Homo sapiens: one gene and its partners. The protein of the gene in region 3 interacts with the protein of the main gene of each other region in a biochemical or structural test. Each region holds a gene or a part of one and is shown on either strand. Other genes may lie near its edges.

Region 1 (3,195 bases), on a different chromosome or scaffold from region 3:
TCCCCTGCCCAACACCCACCCAGGCTGGGCTGTGGGGTCAGCACCTGGCCGGGCCAGGAGGTGGCCTGTGAGTGACCACCCCCGGGGAGGTGGACGAGTCCCTAATGTTTCCCTCGCTCCCCACCAGGGCCCATGTGTGACCTGCTCTGGTCAGATCCACAGCCACAGGTGAGTCTAGGGTGGGGTGCAGGGCCGGCGGGTGTGGGCTGTGGCAGCAGGTGGAGGCAGACAGTCACCCTGAACCCCTGTCTCTCCCTTCTGCCCACCCTCAGAACGGGCGCTCGATCAGCAAGCGGGGCGTGAGCTGTCAGTTTGGGCCTGACGTCACCAAGGCCTTCTTGGAAGAGAACAACCTGGACTATATCATCCGCAGCCACGAAGTCAAGGCCGAGGGCTACGAGGTGGCTCACGGAGGCCGCTGTGTCACCGTCTTCTCTGCCCCCAACTACTGGTATGTCTTTGCCTTTCCAGCCCAGGGCCTCTACCAAGCCACGGGTTTTTGTCTTGGTTTTTGTTTTGCCTTTTTATGATGGAACATTTCAAAGACAGGCAAGAGCAGATAAAAGAACATGACGAACACCCCCGTATGTGTCACCCACCCATGCAGCACCAGTGGGGCCAGCCTGTGAGTGCTGACCAGCTGCCCTGTGTTACAGCAAGCCCCTGGCACTTCACCTTTCTCCCACTGATTGCCCAGCACTTTTCAGAAGGAAAGGGATCTTTTTCTTAACCACAATATCGTGTTTACACTTTTGAGTGCTGGCTGGGCATGGTGGCTCACGCCTATAATCCCAGCACTTTGGGAGGCCGAGGTGGGCGGATCACCTGAGGTCAGGAGTTTGAGACCAGCCTGGCCAACATGGTGAAACCCCATCTCTACTAAAAATACAAAAATTAGCAGGGCGTGGTGGCACACACCCGTAATCCCAGCTACTCAGGAGGCTGAGTCAGGAGAATTGTTCGAACCCGGGAGGTAGAGGTTGCAGTGAGCTGAGATTGCACCACTGCACTCCAGCCTGGGGAAGAGTAAGACTCCATCTCAAAACACACGCACACGGGCAAGAGTAAGACTCCATCTCAAAACACACACACACACACACACACACACACACACACACACACACACACACACACACACACACACACACACACACACACACACACACACACACACACACACAGTGTTGATCCCTTGCCCCCACCCGAATCCTGCCAAGTTCTCTTTCTCCTGGTCTCTCCTAAGTGTCTTTTCCAGCTGACTTCTTCCAGACAGGACCTAAACAAGGACCACATTTTCAGTCTCTTTGCCTGTGAGTTCCCTGTCTCTCCCCACCCGCATCATTTATTTGTTGAAGAATAGGTTGCTGCCTGCTGTACGAGTCACCTGTGTCCTGGACTAGGCTGACTGCATCCCCGTGGTGCCGTGTGACATGTTCCTCTGTTCCCTGCATCTCTGGGTGGGCAAAGCTAGAAGCGTGGTCAGATTCCTAGTGGGGTCTGGCGAGCATCCACCTCCATGAGCTATGCCCTGCCCCTTCCTGCTCCTGCTTCCTGCACTCCCACCCTCTTTTCCCCATCCCCATCCTCCTGCCCCTCCCATTCTTTCCCCTGGATTCGTCTTTCCCATCTCTGTCTCTCTGTCCATCTGTGTCTGTTGTGGCTCTGTCCCTCCCTCTCCCTCTGTCCCTTCTTGCCCAGCCATTCCTTCTCTTAACCCACCAGCCCCACCCAGCCCTGACCACACTGTCCACTCTGCTCCTGTCCCTGCAGCGACCAGATGGGGAACAAAGCCTCCTACATCCACCTCCAGGGCTCTGACCTACGGCCTCAGTTCCACCAGTTCACAGCAGTGGTGAGTCACCCCTCAGGGCCCCTGCCCCTTCCATCCCGGCCTGGGGACAAGGAGGCTGAGACCCTGGTAAGGGGCAGGGGTAGGTTCTGCCGGTGGGTGCTCAGGGGCTCTGTTCTGACTTCTGTCCATCCCACCTGCCCTGGTCCCACAGCCTCATCCCAACGTCAAGCCCATGGCCTATGCCAACACGCTGCTGCAGCTAGGAATGATGTGAGGTGACGGGCGGGGCGGCCTGCATCCCAGGGCCCCTCCAATCCCACCGGACCCAGGCCCTGGGCTAGGGGCAGAGCAGGCCCCGCCCCAGGGCAATGTTGGACCCCCTTTTACTTTGTAAAGTTTGTATTTATTCCCCTTTAGGTTTGCAGAGGGGGTAGGGGCAGAGTCAGGGGCTGGCCAGAGGGTCTGCTCCCTGGACAGAGAGGAAGGAGGTGGAGCAGCTGGGGCTGGGGGCACAGCCTGGGCATTCTGTGGGGAGGCCGTCCTCGGGGTGGGGTGGGGCCGAGTGGCTGCCCTGCCCCCCTCATTTGCATGGCTCCTCCCCCACTCAAGCAATAGGGCCCCGCCATAGGAAGACCCCCAGAGAGAGGGTCAGCAGGGGGGCCCCGCCTGCGCCTCCCCTCCTATAGCCCCATGGTGGGGCTAGGCTGGGGCTCACCCCCCTCCCCAGCTATTTTATGTCTGTAATTAAATATGTTAAAATAAAGTCATTATCGGAAGTCAGCTTGTCTCTGGATGGTGGAGCCGAAGGAGCTGCCCGGGTTGGGTTACGCCTGCTCAGGAGATCCGGAGGGTGGGGAGGCCGCAAAGTCCCGCTGGCCGGGCCCACCCAGCTCTGGGCTGACCGCCCAAGTGGCCTCTGCCTCTGCCCAGCACCGTGGGCTCCTGGGGAGAGTTCTGCCCCCTGGGTGGGGCGATGAGGCCAGCACTGAGTGGAGCGGAGCGGAAGCTGAGGCATAGCCTCATCCTTTGCTGGCTCCAGCAACAAGCATGACAGTGCCGCTCCCTGCTCCCTGCTCAGGGTAGGCCCAGCAGTGGTTCTTGACATCACACGATGAGGCGCGCATCTCCCGTCATCCAGGGAGACCAGAGGACCCTTGTCTCACTCCCAGTTGGCTCTTAGTCACAGGTAACGTTGGATTCCATTCAGGCTGCCCTGCCAGGCCTTGACCCTCCAGAGAGATTGTGTTTTCAAGTTTGAGCTCCTCTGGACTCAGCTTTCTCCAGTGGTATGTGGCACTGGGGGATGGTCTACAGCAAATGACTCCTGCAGGGCCGAGTCCGGGAGTGTTTGGCCCTTTGGAGACCTCCCAGGCAGACATGAGGCGTCCGCGGTCCTGATTGCG
Region 2 (3,500 bases), on a different chromosome or scaffold from region 3:
ATTGCAGCACTGTTCACAATAGGCAGATATGAAATCAAACTAAATGTCCATCAACAGATGAATGGATAAAGAAAATGTAGGCCGGGGTCGGGCACAGTGGCTCACACCTCTAATCCCAACACTTTGGGAGGCCAAGGCAGGCAGATCACCTGAGATCGGGAGCTTGAGACCAGCCTGACCAACATGGAGAAACCCCGTCTCTACTAAAAATACAAAATTAGCCGGGTGTGGTGGTGCATGCCTGTAATCCCAGCTACTCAGGAGACTGAGTCAGGAGAATCCCTTGAACCCAGGAGGCAGAGGTTGCAGTGAGCTGAGATTGTGCCATCGCACTCTGGCCTGGGCAACAAGAGTGAAACTCTGTCTCAAAAAAACGAAAGAAAAGAAAATGTAGGCCGGGCACAGTGCCTCATGCCTGTAATCCCAGCACTTTGGGAAGCCGAAGTGGGTGGATCACATGAGGTCAGGAGTTTGAGACCAGCCTGGCCAACATGGTGAAACCCTGTCTCTACTAAAAATACAAAAATTAGCTGGGCATGGTGGCAGGTGCCTGTAGTCCCAGCTACTCGGGAGACTGAAGCAGGAGACTCATTTGAACCCCGGAGGCAGAGGTTGCAGTGAGCCAAGGTCACACCACTGCACTCCAACATGGGCAACAGAGTGAGACTTCATCTCTAATAATAAAAAAAAAGAAAATGTGTATATAGGCTGGGTGCAGTGGCTCAAAATACAAAATTTAGCTGGGCATGGTGGCATGCACCTGTAGTCTTAGCTACTCGGGAGGCTAAGATGGGAGGATTGCTGCCTAAGACGCAGAGGTTGCAGTGAGCTGAGGTCATGCCACTGCACTCCAAACTGGGTGACAGAGCAAGACTCAATCTAAAAAAAAAAGAAAATGTGTATATATACACAGTGGAACAGTATTCAGCAACAGAAGAGAATGAAATCCTGTCATCTGCAGCAACATGGATGAACCCTGAGGACATTATGTTAAGTGAAATAAGTCAGCACAGAAAGGCAAATATTGTATGCTCACTCATGTGGGAGCTAAAAACATGGATCTCATGGAAGTAGAGAGTAGAATGGTGGTTACCAAAGGCTAGGAAGGGTAGAGGGACAGAATGCATAAAGAGGTTGGTTAATGAATACAAAAATCCAGTCAGATTGAATGAATAAGTTCTAGTGTTCAGTTCCACAGTAGTGTTACTATAGTTAATAATTTATTGTGTATTTCAAAATAGCTAGAAGAGATTTGATATGTTTCCAAGACAAAGAAATGATAAATGTTTGAGATAGTGGATATCCCAATTATCTTGGTTTTATCATTGTACATTGTATGCATGAGTCAAAATAGCACAGGTACCCCATAAATATGTACAATTATTATGTGTCAATGAAGAAAAAAGAAAATGTGGTATATATACACAGTGGAATACTATTCAGCCTTTAAAAAGAAGGAAATTCCAGCCAAGCATGGTGGCTCACACCTGTAATCCCAGCACTTTGGGAGACCAATGTGGGTGGATCACTTGAGTCTAAGAGTTCAAGACCAAACCCCATCTCTACAACAAATACAAAAAATTAGCCGGGCACTTTGGCACATGCCGTAGTCCCAGCTACTTGGGAGGCTGAGGTGGGAGGATCTCCTGAGCCCAGCAGTTGGGAGTTGCAGTGAGCCAACATCATGCCACTGCACTCCAGCCTGGGTGACAGAGTGAAACTGTCTTGAGAGAGAGAGACTATTCAGGGAACTCTCTTATTAGGCTATGATGTTTTTCTTTCTTTCTTTCTTTCTTTCTTTTTTTGAGACAGGGTCTCTGTCACTCAGGCTGGAATGCAGTGGTATGATGAGAGACTATTCAGGGAACTCATATTAGGCTATGATGTTTTTCTTTTTCTCTTGGGTTTTTTTTTTTTTTTTTTTTTGAGACAGAGTCTCTGTCACTCAGGCTGAAGTGCAGTGGTATGATCACAGCTCACTACAGTCTTGACCTTTGGGGTTCAAGTAGTTCTCCTACCTCAGCCTCCCGGGTAGCTGAGACTACAGGACTACAGGTCCCCGTCCCCACACCTAATTTTTTTGTATTTTTTGTAGAGATGGGGTTTTGCCATGTTGTCCAGGCTAGTCTCAAACTCCTGGCCTCAAGCAATCCTCATGTCTTGGCCTCCCAAAGTCCTGGGATTACATGTCTGAGCCACCATGCCCGCCTAAGGCTATGACCTTTTTGAGACAAACGTTAAATGTTATAACTACCACCCTTATTCCCAGCTTACCTTTAATAACCTGTTCAGATTTATTATTCATGAGTTTATCTAAATCCTTTCTCATCATATTTATTATGTCAACCTGTACTTCCCTTTCCCTCTTCCTCTCCCTCTTTTCTCTCCCTCTCCCTCTCTCTCTCTTCCTTCCTCCCCTTCCAGGTACCCTAGATGAACCATGGGAGGTCCTGGCTACACAGCCATTCTGTCTGAGAGAGTCTGAGGACTCTGAGACCCAGCCTTTTGACACGCACCTTGAGGCCTATGGACCTTGCCTGTCTCCACCTAGGGCAATACCAGGAGACCAACATCCAGAGAGCCCAGTTCACACAGAGCCAATGGGGATTCAAGGCAGAGGGAGGCAGACTGTGGATAAAGTCATGGGTATACCAAAAGAAACAGCAGAGAGGGTGGGCCCTGAGAGAGGGCCATTGGAGAGAGAAACTGAGAAACTGCTACCAGAAAGACAGACAGATGTGACAGGAGAGGAAGAATTAACCAAGGGGAAACAGGACAGAGAACAAAAACAGTTGTTAGCTAGAGACACCCAGAGACAAGAATCTGACAAAAATGGGGAAAGTGCAAGTCCTGAAAGAGATAGGGAGAGTTTGAAGGTAGAAATTGAGACATCTGAGGAAATACAAGAGAAACAAGTACAGAAGCAGACCCTTCCAAGCAAAGCATTTGAGAGAGAAGTAGAGAGACCAGTAGCAAACAGAGAGTGCGATCCAGCCGAGTTAGAAGAGAAGGTGCCCAAAGTGATCCTGGAGAGAGATACACAGAGAGGGGAGCCAGAGGGAGGGAGCCAGGACCAGAAAGGGCAGGCCTCCAGCCCAACACCAGAGCCTGGGGTGGGGGCGGGGGACCTTCCGGGACCTACCTCAGCCCCCGTACCTTCTGGGAGCCAGTCAGGTGGAAGGGGATCCCCAGTGAGCCCCAGGAGGCATCAGAAAGGTAAGTGAAGGCAGAGGGGAACCCAAGGTGATACACAGGCCTCGTGATAATCAACCCCTGGGCAACCAGCTGCTTGGAACTCAGCCACCTTTGTGTTTACTTTCTGTCTAGGCCTCCTGAATTGCAAGATGCCACCTGCTGAGAAGGCTTCCAGGATCAGAGCTGCTGAGAAGGTTTCCAGGGTGAGAGCTACTTTTTCTACCTCCTATTCCACAAGTCATCTCTATATCTTCTCCAATGCTCTTTCACCTAGCCTCACTTTAATCTATTCCTTTCTCATTATT
Region 3 (3,500 bases):
ATCGGCTTGCCAAAGGATCAGAATGTTACCAAAAGAGCCTTAGTTTAAATCCTTTCCTCTGGTCTCCCTTTGAATCATTATGTGAAATAGGTAGGTGGGTGGGGTTGAGAGGTGGGTGGGTTCCCATCTCCTCTTCTTTTTTTCCTGCTACTTAATTTTTGGAGAGCAATACAGATCATCTACCCCCAAGAAAAATATTTTTCAAAGTTAAAATTGAGAATAAAAAATAAGTTAGAATCTTCGGTATGTTTCAAGAATCATATAACTGAAAATTACACAAAGATTAAATCCAGTAGATTCTTCTGTTGAACCAATCTATTTTCAAGTATCTGGTGTCCTCTAGAATGGGTTATATTGTGTGTTTAACACTAGCAAAATTGCTTTCTGAATAAGAAAATTAATAAAATTTCTAATGCAATTAATAAATGCCTGAAACTTACAAGACCTGAACAGTACAGGGAGAGAATTTCTCAGTATATTTGGCCTAGGATACATAAAGGACCATTTTTCAGCATTGTTGCATCTATGTATATATAGAAGGGCTTCAACCTTTACTGTAAAATATGATGGGTTTTAACTCTTCAACCTCATCTCCTACTTTGAGAAAAATGAGATCTAGTTATTTTCAGCTTTAAAACAAACACAGAAATCTGCATTTTTCTGCGATTTGTTATGTTTAAAATTAGTGTTCTTGTAGTTTATTTTCATTTACAGCTTTATCTTACTGGTAAACTTTTATGATATATTGATAGATGGGTTTTTTGGGGGTAAATTTGATTAGCAGAAGTGGACAGGAGATTTTTAAAGTTTGGATAAGGCCTATTTCCTGTTTCCACTGATTTATGCATACTTGAAAAACATGTATTCCTCACTTCCTCAGAGACAAACTTTTTTTTTTTTTGTCTTCACAGGTGAAAAGCCAGATCCTGACCAAACATTTAAATTCACATCTTTACAGAACTTTAGCAACTGTCTGCCCAACTCTTGCACAACACAAGTACCTAATCATAGTTTATCTCACAGACAGCCTGAGACAGTTCTTACGGAAACACCCCAGGACACAATTGTAAGTGTCTTATATTCTAGTGTTCAAAATATTATGAAAACTACAAAGAATGATCTGAACTAAATAATATATTGTGAATGACTTGGTAGAAATTTTCTGTTTCAGGAATTAAACAGATTGAATTTAGAATCTTCCAATTCAAAGTACTCCTTGAATACAGATTCCTCAGTGTCTTATATTGATTCAGCTGTAATTTCACCTGATACTGTCCCACTGGGAACAGGAACTTCCATATTATCTAAACAGGTTCAAAATAAACCAAAAACTGGTCGAAGTTTATTAGGAGGACCAGCAGCTCTTAGTCCATTAACCCCAAGGTAAGTCAAACAAGATACTTTCAAATGTGCTATAATACCAAATGATCTTATGATAACTCATATTGTTAGTAATGCAGATTATTACAACAGCAACTTCTAAATCACTGTGGAAACAGGGGCATTCTGTTTTCAGAAAATGAAGTAAAAACTGGCAAATAGTGATGTTGCCAGGTGCGGTGGCTCATGCCTGTAATCCCAGCACCTTGGGAGGCCAAGGCAGGCAGATCACCTGAGGTCAGGAGTTCAAGAACAGCCTGGCCAACATGGTGAAACCCTGTCTCTACTAAAAATACAAAAATTAGCTGGGCATGGTGGCGGGCGCCTGTAATCCCAGCTACTCAGGAGGCTGAGACAGGAGAATTGCTTGAACCCGGGAGGCGGAGGTTGTAGTGAGCCGAGATGGAGCCACTACACTCCATCCTGGGCGACAGACCAAGACTCCAACTCAAAAAAAATTGATATTGAATATTGGACTGGCCAGGCGCAGTGGCTCACGCCTGTAATCCCAGCACTTTGGGAGACCAAGGTGGGCAGATCACGAGGTCAGGAGATCGAGACCATCCTGGCCAACATGGCGAAACCCCGTCTCTACTAAAAATACAAAAAACTAGCCGGGTGTGGTGGCACGCGCCTGTAGATCCAGCTACTCGGGAGGCTGAGGCAAGAGAATCACTTGAACCCGGGAGACAGAGGTTGCAGTGAGCCGAGATGGTGTCACTGCACTCCAGCCTGGGAGACAGGGCAAGACTCCATCTCAAAAAAAAAATTGGAGGAAAATTTAAAACTCTGAAATATTCCTTAATTAGGTAGTAAACACATTAAAAAATACTGTCTTTATGGCTGTGCATTAATGGATAGCGGTGAGCCTCATGAAATGTTATAATCAGGGCACCACTGGTTACTGTTAAAGTGCCTTTTTCCAAAACATGGAGGAAATTTGACACCTACCTTTTTTTGTTTGAGACAGGATCTCACTCTGTCACCCAGGTTAGAGTGCAGTGGCACAATCATAGCTCACTGCAGCCTCAAATTCTTGGGCTCAAGCGATCCTCCCACCTCAGACTCCTGAGTAGCTGGGACTGCAGGCACATGCCACCACACCTGGCTAATTTTTTAAGTGTTTTTGTAGAGATGGGGTCTTGCTGTGTTGCCCAAGCTGATCTGGAACTCCTGGCCTCTAGTGATCCTCCTGCTGTGGCCTCCCAAAGTGCTAGGATTACCGTGAGCCACTGAACCTAGCTGTCACACCTATTAATATAAAATATTTTATCAAAATTATTAGAAGTATATGTATGTATAAATACAGGAACTCAGCCCAGAGGATACATATCCAAAAGTATCAAAATGAAAAATTATGTGCTAGAATGGGTTGGGCATGGGGGCTCATGCCTGTAATCCCAGCACTTTGGGAGGCTGAGGTGGGCAGATCACTTGAGACCAGGAGCTCAAGACCAGTCTGGCCAACATGGTGAAACCCTATCTCTACTAAAATTACAAAAATTAGCCCGGCATGGTGACACATACGTGTAATCCCAGGTACTTTGGGGGTTGAGGCACAAGAATCATTTGAACCCAGCAGGTGGAGGTTGCAGTGAGCTGAGATCATGCCACTGCACTCCAGCCTGGGCAACAGAGCGAGACTCTGTCTCAAAAAAATATATACATATATGCTAGAAGAAATTCTATGAATCAGGTCCTGAGGCCGGGGAACTACTAAAATAGCATGACCATGAGATTACAACTCTGGAGAGTTATAGTTATCTAATGGTCTCTAGAGACATTTTCTCTGTAGTTGTGTCTAAATCCCATAAATTCCAAGAATTTGAAGTAATCTCATCATTTGGATCTTAGATTTATAAAGCTACTCTTCTTTATTTCTAATAAATCTCCTGAGATCAGTAATTGTTGCTCAGTTTAGTTCCTTGTTTGATAGCTTTTTAAAATTTTAGTTATGGTGGGTGGAATAGTCTACATTCACAGCTTATTTTTAATCTGCCCCTCAGATCCTCACTGTCCCTAAGACTGATTTGCCATTCTCTTCCTTTTAGACCTTCTAATTTAAGTATACTGCTGCTTTATATATGCCTTGATGACTTTTTGACACCTTGATTTCAACC

The links.
Region 1: the proteins of CDC27 (region 3) and PPP5C form a complex in vitro, tested with the Homo sapiens proteins (one study listed by BioGRID).
Region 2: the proteins of CDC27 (region 3) and MDC1 form a complex in vitro, tested with the Homo sapiens proteins (2 studies listed by BioGRID).

Annotation. Positions count from the first base shown.
Region 1 is NC_000019.10:46,388,281-46,391,475, forward strand, and holds the end of PPP5C (serine/threonine-protein phosphatase 5), read left to right. Parts: intron 1-127; coding exon 128-168; intron 169-272; coding exon 273-451; intron 452-1,770; coding exon 1,771-1,852; intron 1,853-2,003; coding exon 2,004-2,066; 3' UTR 2,067-2,695; downstream 2,696-3,195. UniProt on the Homo sapiens protein: Serine/threonine-protein phosphatase that dephosphorylates a myriad of proteins involved in different signaling pathways including the kinases CSNK1E, ASK1/MAP3K5, PRKDC and RAF1, the nuclear receptors NR3C1, PPARG, ESR1 and ESR2, SMAD proteins and TAU/MAPT.
Region 2 is NC_000006.12:30,707,282-30,710,781, reverse strand, and holds part of MDC1 (mediator of DNA damage checkpoint protein 1), read left to right. Parts: intron 1-2,424; coding exon 2,425-3,216; intron 3,217-3,327; coding exon 3,328-3,398; intron 3,399-3,500. UniProt on the Homo sapiens protein: Histone reader protein required for checkpoint-mediated cell cycle arrest in response to DNA damage within both the S phase and G2/M phases of the cell cycle.
Region 3 is NC_000017.11:47,154,796-47,158,295, reverse strand, and holds part of CDC27 (cell division cycle protein 27 homolog), read left to right. Parts: coding exon 1-90; intron 91-911; coding exon 912-1,066; intron 1,067-1,171; coding exon 1,172-1,383; intron 1,384-3,431; exon of another isoform or gene 3,432-3,500. UniProt on the Homo sapiens protein: Component of the anaphase promoting complex/cyclosome (APC/C), a cell cycle-regulated E3 ubiquitin ligase that controls progression through mitosis and the G1 phase of the cell cycle.